Homo sapiens: one gene and its partner. The protein of the gene in region 2 interacts with the protein of the main gene of each other region in a pairwise test. Each region holds a gene or a part of one and is shown on either strand. Other genes may lie near its edges.

The links.
Region 1: the proteins of ATP2B3 (region 2) and HTR2C interact in a two-hybrid assay, tested with the Homo sapiens proteins (one large-scale study listed by BioGRID and IntAct).

The regions. Positions count from the first base shown.
Region 1 is NC_000023.11:114,849,361-114,853,185, reverse strand, and holds part of HTR2C (5-hydroxytryptamine receptor 2C isoform a precursor), read right to left. Parts: intron 1-3,825. UniProt on the Homo sapiens protein: G-protein coupled receptor for 5-hydroxytryptamine (serotonin).
Region 2 is NC_000023.11:153,548,581-153,552,405, reverse strand, and holds part of ATP2B3 (plasma membrane calcium-transporting ATPase 3), read right to left. Parts: intron 3,767-3,825; coding exon 3,552-3,766; intron 2,910-3,551; coding exon 2,667-2,909; intron 2,362-2,666; coding exon 2,120-2,361; intron 1-2,119. UniProt on the Homo sapiens protein: ATP-driven Ca(2+) ion pump involved in the maintenance of basal intracellular Ca(2+) levels at the presynaptic terminals. Uses ATP as an energy source to transport cytosolic Ca(2+) ions across the plasma membrane to the extracellular compartment.

The DNA of each region.
Region 1 (3,825 bases), about 39 Mb from region 2:
TGGCACTGAAGTGGTTTTCATACATTTAATCATATGAACTTCAGCCAAATAAAATAGATGCAAATTAAAATTACACTGAGGTAACATTTCTCACTTATGGGATTTGCAAAATCTAAAAAGTTTGAAAATAAACTTCATTAGCAAGGCTTTGGGGAAACAGAGGCTTTCTTGCATTGCTGGTGGGAATGCAAAATGGTTCAACTCCTAACTACATGTACCCTTTGATCAATCAACTCCTCCTCTAAGAATTTATTTAGAAGATAAATTCTGAATACATTTGAGCAAGAATTTATTTAAAAGTTAAACTTCCAATAATATGAAACACACACATGCACGCGCGCGCGCACACAAACACACAAGACAGACACACATGCACGCACGCACACACAAAGGACACACACACACACACACACACACACACAATTATTCTTAGTAGAATTATTGGCAACTTCCAAATGTTGGAAACAACTTACCTGATTATACACAGAAGATTGGTTAAATAAAGTATATCAACACAATCTATTATTAGTGAGTGTAAAAAATAATAGAATGAATTTAGCTTTTAATTGGAGTATTTAGGCCATTTACATGATAAAGTTGGGTGCATATCTATCATCTTACAAATTGATAGAGTGATTTCCAGGACATATTTCCAAGTAAAAGAACAAAGCAAAACAAAGTATTAATTTGTATGTAGCATTTTAACTTTTAATTTAAGAATGGAAAAATAACAATACGTGTATTTGTGTATAATCTTTTTTTTTTTTGCAAAAATAAATTCAAGAAGTATGCCCTAGAAACTAATGAATGGGTTAACCACGGAATAGAAGAGGAACTGACTCTTCTCTGAGTATTTTATTTGCCTAGTTTTGACTGTTGGAGCATCATATTAAAGTTTTACATATTAAAAAATAAAGTCAACAAGGTTGGGGAATACATGCAAAAACAAAACAAAATCCCTAAATGTGAACAATTGGTATCAGAACCACAGAGAAAAAAAATTCAAACTAATCCTAGCATTTTGAAGACAATGCTTTGACTATATGCCATTGGTGGAAAACATTCTAAAGATAAAATTGCAATGAAATTTTAAACATTGCATTTCATTTATTGGTAGTGGTATGGGTATAGAAATTCTGAAATTAATTTCTTGTATGGTAGGATATAGAAAATATAAATAATAAATATATCAATGGTTTGGGGACAAAGTTACTCACTGTGAGAAAAATGAGGAAAAATAAAGAATTGGAAAGTAGCAAGAGTCCTGTGTTCGTGAATTGGGATTAAAGGTATTGATATATAGGAGCAATGATATCCTATTAGCAATGAGCATACTGAGCTTCTGCATCCTGCTTTATAAAACCATTGCCCACTAAAAGGGTTTCTTGTAAGAAATGGCTAATTTCGGAACTGGGGCATGGAAAGTAAAAGGTGAGTCTGGCAAATGCTCAAAAGCTGATGGGATATATGAAAAGGAGTTCTTATTAGAAAAATATGAGACAATTTGAGCATCAAAATAATTAAGGGCAATAATGAATCATATATATTACACTGAATACAAAAGAATCCAGGAGTCTCCACCAACATGAACTAATAAATAACAAAGACTTGGAGGGAAAACACTTCCTTACAGTATAATACCAACAAATAAAGGCAGGAAGAATAATAAAATGAGAAAAATTATCATTGTATCACCTTAGTAATAGATAGCTTAGGGAAGAATCATCAATGGATTTGAAATCCATTAGGTCAAAGTTTATTGGGAAACAATTTCTTAATTTCCAAATATACGAAGGTTTTTCTACTATTTTGAAGTCATTTCTATTTCTTTTGAATTTCAGTCAAAGAATAAACAATTTATTCCAACCCTTTGGAATGTGTTGAGGAATTACTTTATGGTCAGTTTTGATAAATATTTCTTGTGCAATGATGGGAATATGTATTCTTCACTTGTCAGTGAGTTCAGGTTTGTTAATTGTTTTCATACAATCGCTGAGAAGGATGTGCTAAGATCTTATGCGATGATTGTAGACTTGTCTATCTGTCCCTGAAGTTCTGTCCTCTTTTACTTTATAATGTATATACTATGTATATTACATATGTATCTACATATAATTATGTACATACAAATTTATTACCTTATGTCTTCCAGATGTATTAAATCTTTCATAGTAAGTAATCTTCTTTCACTGGAGTATTTGTTTTTTGCCGAAAAGTCTATTTTGACAAATATTAATATAGCTATACAGTCTTTCTCTTGGATAGTGTTTAGATGGAGGAATTTTTTTGTTTGTTTTTATCCTTTTACTTTCTTTATGCTTTATATATGCCTCTTGTAACATATAGTTGTCTTATTTTTTTGAAAGCCTATATGACAGTCTTAGAATCCTTAGTAATTCATATAATTAGGGATATATTTGGTTTTAATTCTGCCATTCAGTATACGTTTTATATTTTTCTATCTTTTATTGACTCCTTTTGGATTTATCTTATTATTTCATTTTATCTTTTATTTGTAGAGACAAAGTGTTGCTTTCTCATCAAGGCTGAAGTGTCATAGCACGATCATAGCTCACTGCAACCTCAAGACACTTGAGTTCAAGTGATGCTCCTGCCTCAACCTTCTGAGTAGCTAGGGCTACAGGCACATGCCACCATACCCAGCTAATTTTTAATATTTTATAATAATCTTCTGTAAATTTGGAAATTCGCCATCTCTAATCTGCCACAGAGTTCTTAGGTTTTCATTTTTTAATTAATTAATTTTTTTTGTGTGTGTGACAGAGTCTCACTCTGTTGCCCAGGCTGGAGCGCAGTGGCATGATCTCAGCTCACTGCAGACTTGACCTCTGAGGGTCAAGTGATCCTCCCACCACAGCCTCCCAAGTAGCTGGGATTACAGGCGTGTGCTACCATACCTGGCTAATTTTTGTATTTTTAGTAGAGATGGGGTTTCATCATGTTGTCCAGGCTAGTCTTGAACTCCTGGCCACAAGTGATCCGCCTGCATCGGCCTCCCAAAGTGCTGGAATTACAGGTGTAAGACACTGCCTGGCCCTTAGTTTTTCATATTATGCTTAAGTTCCATATTTTCTAGGTGTTTCTCAAATCTTAATGTCATTTGTTATAGTTTGCAGTTTCTTGCTGAAGTGTTTAAGATCAGCATGTAATTTCCATGTGCACATTCCAAATGATTATTTAAAGTGTATGTCTGATAATTCAATTATCTGAAGTGTTTGTAAGTTTATTTCTGTTATCTCTTATTGTCCCATACCTGATTCATGTTGTATTGTCTCCTCATATATCTGCATATCATTGTATTTCAGTGACAGCATTTGAAAATTATTGAAAGAAATAAGTTGAAATCTAGGATTATGGGGTTTTTTTTGTTTGTTTATGCCCCAAAATTGGAAACCTGAATAATACGAAATCATCTTAATCCAATTTTAAGGCCCAAGATTTCTCTCATTTACATAGATGACTTGAACCAGGGCTGAATTCCATGTCTATGGTGATTTAATCCTGGTCGATCCTTATTCCTAGTGTCTGGTTTTTTTGTGATCCCAGAATTAAATTCAGGTTGGTTGGCCCTTGCCAGACTCTGTATTCCTACTCTAGTCCTCCATTGCTTGCGAGTCTGAAATGATCGTCTCCACCTGTCAGTCATATCTTCAGGTTTATAATGCATCATTGGCAAAAGTGAACTAGAAGTCATAATCATTTTTCTTGGGTTTTTGTCTTTTTCTGGATCTTAGCCAATAGCAATTTCTATTTCATTAGCTTCTTAGGGCTTTTAGTGTTTTATCCATGTGTTTATTTGCCTTT
Region 2 (3,825 bases):
GGAAGAAGCCAGTGGGGCTGTGAGTGCCAGGTGCTGCCACTGCATGGGAGGCTGGTGACGAAGGAAATGATCATAACAGAAGCTGTGTGGACGGAGAGCCTCCTATGGATGTGGATTCACCCACGGAACCCTCACACCCCTCCCCAGAGATAAGTATTCTGTGATCTCCATGCCACCAGGGAAACTGAGGCATGGGAGTAAGGGGGAGTGAAGCTGGGCTGGGCCTTTTGTCCGCAGTGCCTCAGTGTCCCTCAGTGCCCACCAAAAAAGAAGCACAGAAAGAGGGCTGAGGCCCCCACACCAGCAGGGATGGCTCCAGGGAGGAGGTGGTCCTGGCCCTGGCAGTGAGCGCTGCACCTGGCAGAGTTCTGGGAGAGCGCTGTGGGTGGGGCGGCCAGGCAGGGTGCACTTGGTGGTCCAGTCCGCAGAACACAGGAAGGAGCGTGGGCCTGGGCCTTTGGGGAGCCCTGGGCGTCCTGCAGAGGACCTTGCCCTGAGGGCCCTGGGACGGCAGTCATGAGGAGCGAGGTGACTTGTGGACAGAGACGCCAAGGCCAAGGGTGTGGAGTCCGGGAAGGCTGAGTGGGAGTGGGGAAGCCAGGGCATTTGGAGGTGACGCTGTGCACTCTCCCTTACTTTGTTCTAATAGCTTTATTGGGATATAATTCACGCACCACACAGTCCACCCATTTAAAGTAGATAATTCGATGGTTTTTAGTATAGTCACAGAGCTGCACGACCATCACCAGTCTCCAATTCCAGAAAATTTTCATCATCTCTAAGAAAATTTTCATCATCTCTAAGCAACAACAAGAAAATAGATCAACTGGACGTCATCACGATTTAAAACATTTGTGCACCTAAGGACACTATCAAGAGAGTGAAGACAGGCCACAGAATGGGACAGAATGTGTAGAAATCGCATAGCTGATAAGGATCTAGGATCCAGAATACAGAAAAAATGTTACAGCCCAACAATAAAAAGACAAACAACCCAACTCAGCAATGAGCAAAGGGCTAGGACAGACATTTCCCCAAGGAAGACAGGCAAATGGCCAGTCAGCACAGCAAAAGAGGCTCAGCGTTGTTAGTCATCAAGGAAACACAGATCAAAACCACCAGGAGATATTGCCTCACACCCACAAGGATGGCCCCCATCAGCATTGTCACACCAGAAAATAAGTGCTGTTGAAGATGGGGAGAAGGTGGAACCCTCCTATGTCGCTGGTGGGAATGTGAAACGGTGCTGCCCCTGTGGAAAACAGTTTCGTGGACACCACGACCCAGCCATTCCTCTCCTAGATGTCCACGCAAAAGAATTGAAAACATGGGTTCAAACAAAAACTTGTACGTGAATATTCACAGCAGCGTGACTCGTGACAGCCAAAAGGTGGAAACGACTCACGTGCTGGTAGACGTGCTGGTAGACAGATGAAGGGATGGATGGACCAACACAATGCTCTTTAGCATACAATGGATATTACTCAGCCTTAGAAAGAATGGAAGTTCGGGCTGGTGGCAGTGGCTCATTCCTGTAATCCTAGCACTTAGGGAGGCCGGGTGGGTGGATCGCTTGAGCCCAAGACTTCAAGACCACCCTGGGCAACATGAGGAGACCCCAGCTCTACAAAAAATTTGAAAATTCGCTGGGCGTGGTGGCATGCACATGTAATCCCAGCTACGGGGGACACTGACGTAGGAGGATGGCTTGAGGGAAAAAACAAAACAAAACAAAAAAAGAAAGGAAGGTCTAATATCTGAGGGAAACGGAAAAACTTTACACTAAGGAAAGAAGCCAGACACAAAAGGCCACACAGTGTATGAGTCCCTTGATAGGAAATGTCCAGACAGGCAAATCCATACAGACAGGAAGCACATGAGGCTGGGGAGGGGCGTGGGGAGGGCTGCTCATGGGCCTGGGGTTTCTTTCCGGGTTGATGGAGGTGTTTTGGAACTGGGTAGTGGTGACGGTTGCATGATATTGTGAACGTGCTTAATGCCATTCAACTGTACACTGTAAAGTGGTTGAAATGGTGAATTTTACGTTCGGCCTCTTTTACCACGACAATAGAATCAGAAACTCCGTGCGTACCCCGGCACCTCCCTGCTGCTCACTCACTTTTTCAAGAGGATCTCTGAGGCCCCCTTGCTGAAGAGGCGGAAGCCACCGTCGGGCATGCGGATGACTGTGCTCATGGACTTGCGGACCGAGTTGAAGGTGTACACTTTGTAAAGCTTGTCTTCCGGGATCTGCTCGCGCACGGGCTGGAAGTCCCGCTTCAGGTCCAAGACGAAGCCCAGCAGGGCGCACTCCGTCTTATTGCCCACCTGGCGTGGGAGGGCGCCTTCCTTCTCAGGAGGCTGCAAGATGACGAGGGCTAGCAGGCACTGGGGGCCTGAGACCACCCTCCATGCTGCCCCTGGAGCCCCAGCTCTGCCCCCTCGTGGTCACCACATTGTTAGGGTGTGGGCGGCAGGGAGCAGAGGAAGGTCGGCCTTAGCTACAGGCAGTTTCCCAGCCAGAGCCACCTGTGAGGCCAGGGATGGGCAAAAGTTCTCAAGGGGGGGCCTAATGAGCACCTTGCAACAGCTCACCTGGCACCCTGGCCAGGACCCTCCCCTGCTCCTGCCCCCGGCCCTGCCCGCCCGCTCCTGCCCCAGCTCACTAGTATTTTGGTGGTATAGGCACTGTTGATGGAGATGGCATGGACCAGGAGGTCGAGGATCTTAGGGGTCAGGGCGCTGGGGGCCGGAATCTCTTTGTAGTGGGTGTCTCCTAGGTAGGACTGGACCACGGTCATACGGTTGGTGGTGAGCGTGCCCGTCTTGTCGGAGCAGATGGCTGTGGCGTTGCCCATGGTCTCGCAGGCATCCAGGTGGCGCACCAGGTTGTTGTCTTTCATCATTTTCTGCAAAGGGCGAGGGTGTGGGCATTTGGCCCAGGTGCTTGTTGGGGTGGAGGAGTGAGAGATGTCAACACAAACATCGCGTGACTCTGTTCTGCTCAGCTAGCTCCACGTGTGGCACTAAGCCCACTGGGCACCTGGTCAGCCCTGAGCCAATAGCGAGGCTGTAAGGCATCAGCAACCTCATCCAATGGTGGGGGCGGGATGCGCACCCGGGACCTCCCCTGCCCGAGCCCCCTCTCAGTTACCCACCAGCCCTGCAGCTCTCCCACCCCACCACCCCACCACCCCACCACCCCACACCTGGCTCCCCCCACCTCCTCCCACTGCCTCCCAGTGTCCCGGGCCCTCTGCTGATTCTCCGCTTCCCCGCTGCCTCCCAGCCCCTCCGTCCTACTGCCCACATTGTGCAGATGCTGAACCCCTGGGTATCTCACCGCCTGCCTGCTTTCTGGCCCATCTCATGCCGAGGGACCTGAGCTGACAGATCAGCAAAGCTGCCCCCTGGGTCCCTGCTCGGCACCTCCTCTCCTCCCTTGAGCTATCCCAAACGTCCCCAGTTTATACTGCCACCAAGGCGCCCAATGACTTCTTACCCCAGTTTCCGAGTCTGTAAACAGTATCAACTGTAAGTTTTATGATTACCTTGACAGAGTAAGCTAAGGAGATGGTGACAGCAAGAGGCAGGCCCTCTGGGACAGCCACGACCAGCACAGTGACACCAATGATGAAGAACTTCACGAAGTATTGTACATAGACCGGCGTGCACTCTGCCAGCCATGTCCGGCCTTCCACGACAAACGTCTCAATCACAAAGTAGAGGACCAGGATGATGACGGTGATGGCAGACATCACCAGCCCTGCCACAGAGCGGGGAGGAGACGAAAGGGGTTGCCACGGGTGAGGGAAGGAGGGGGAC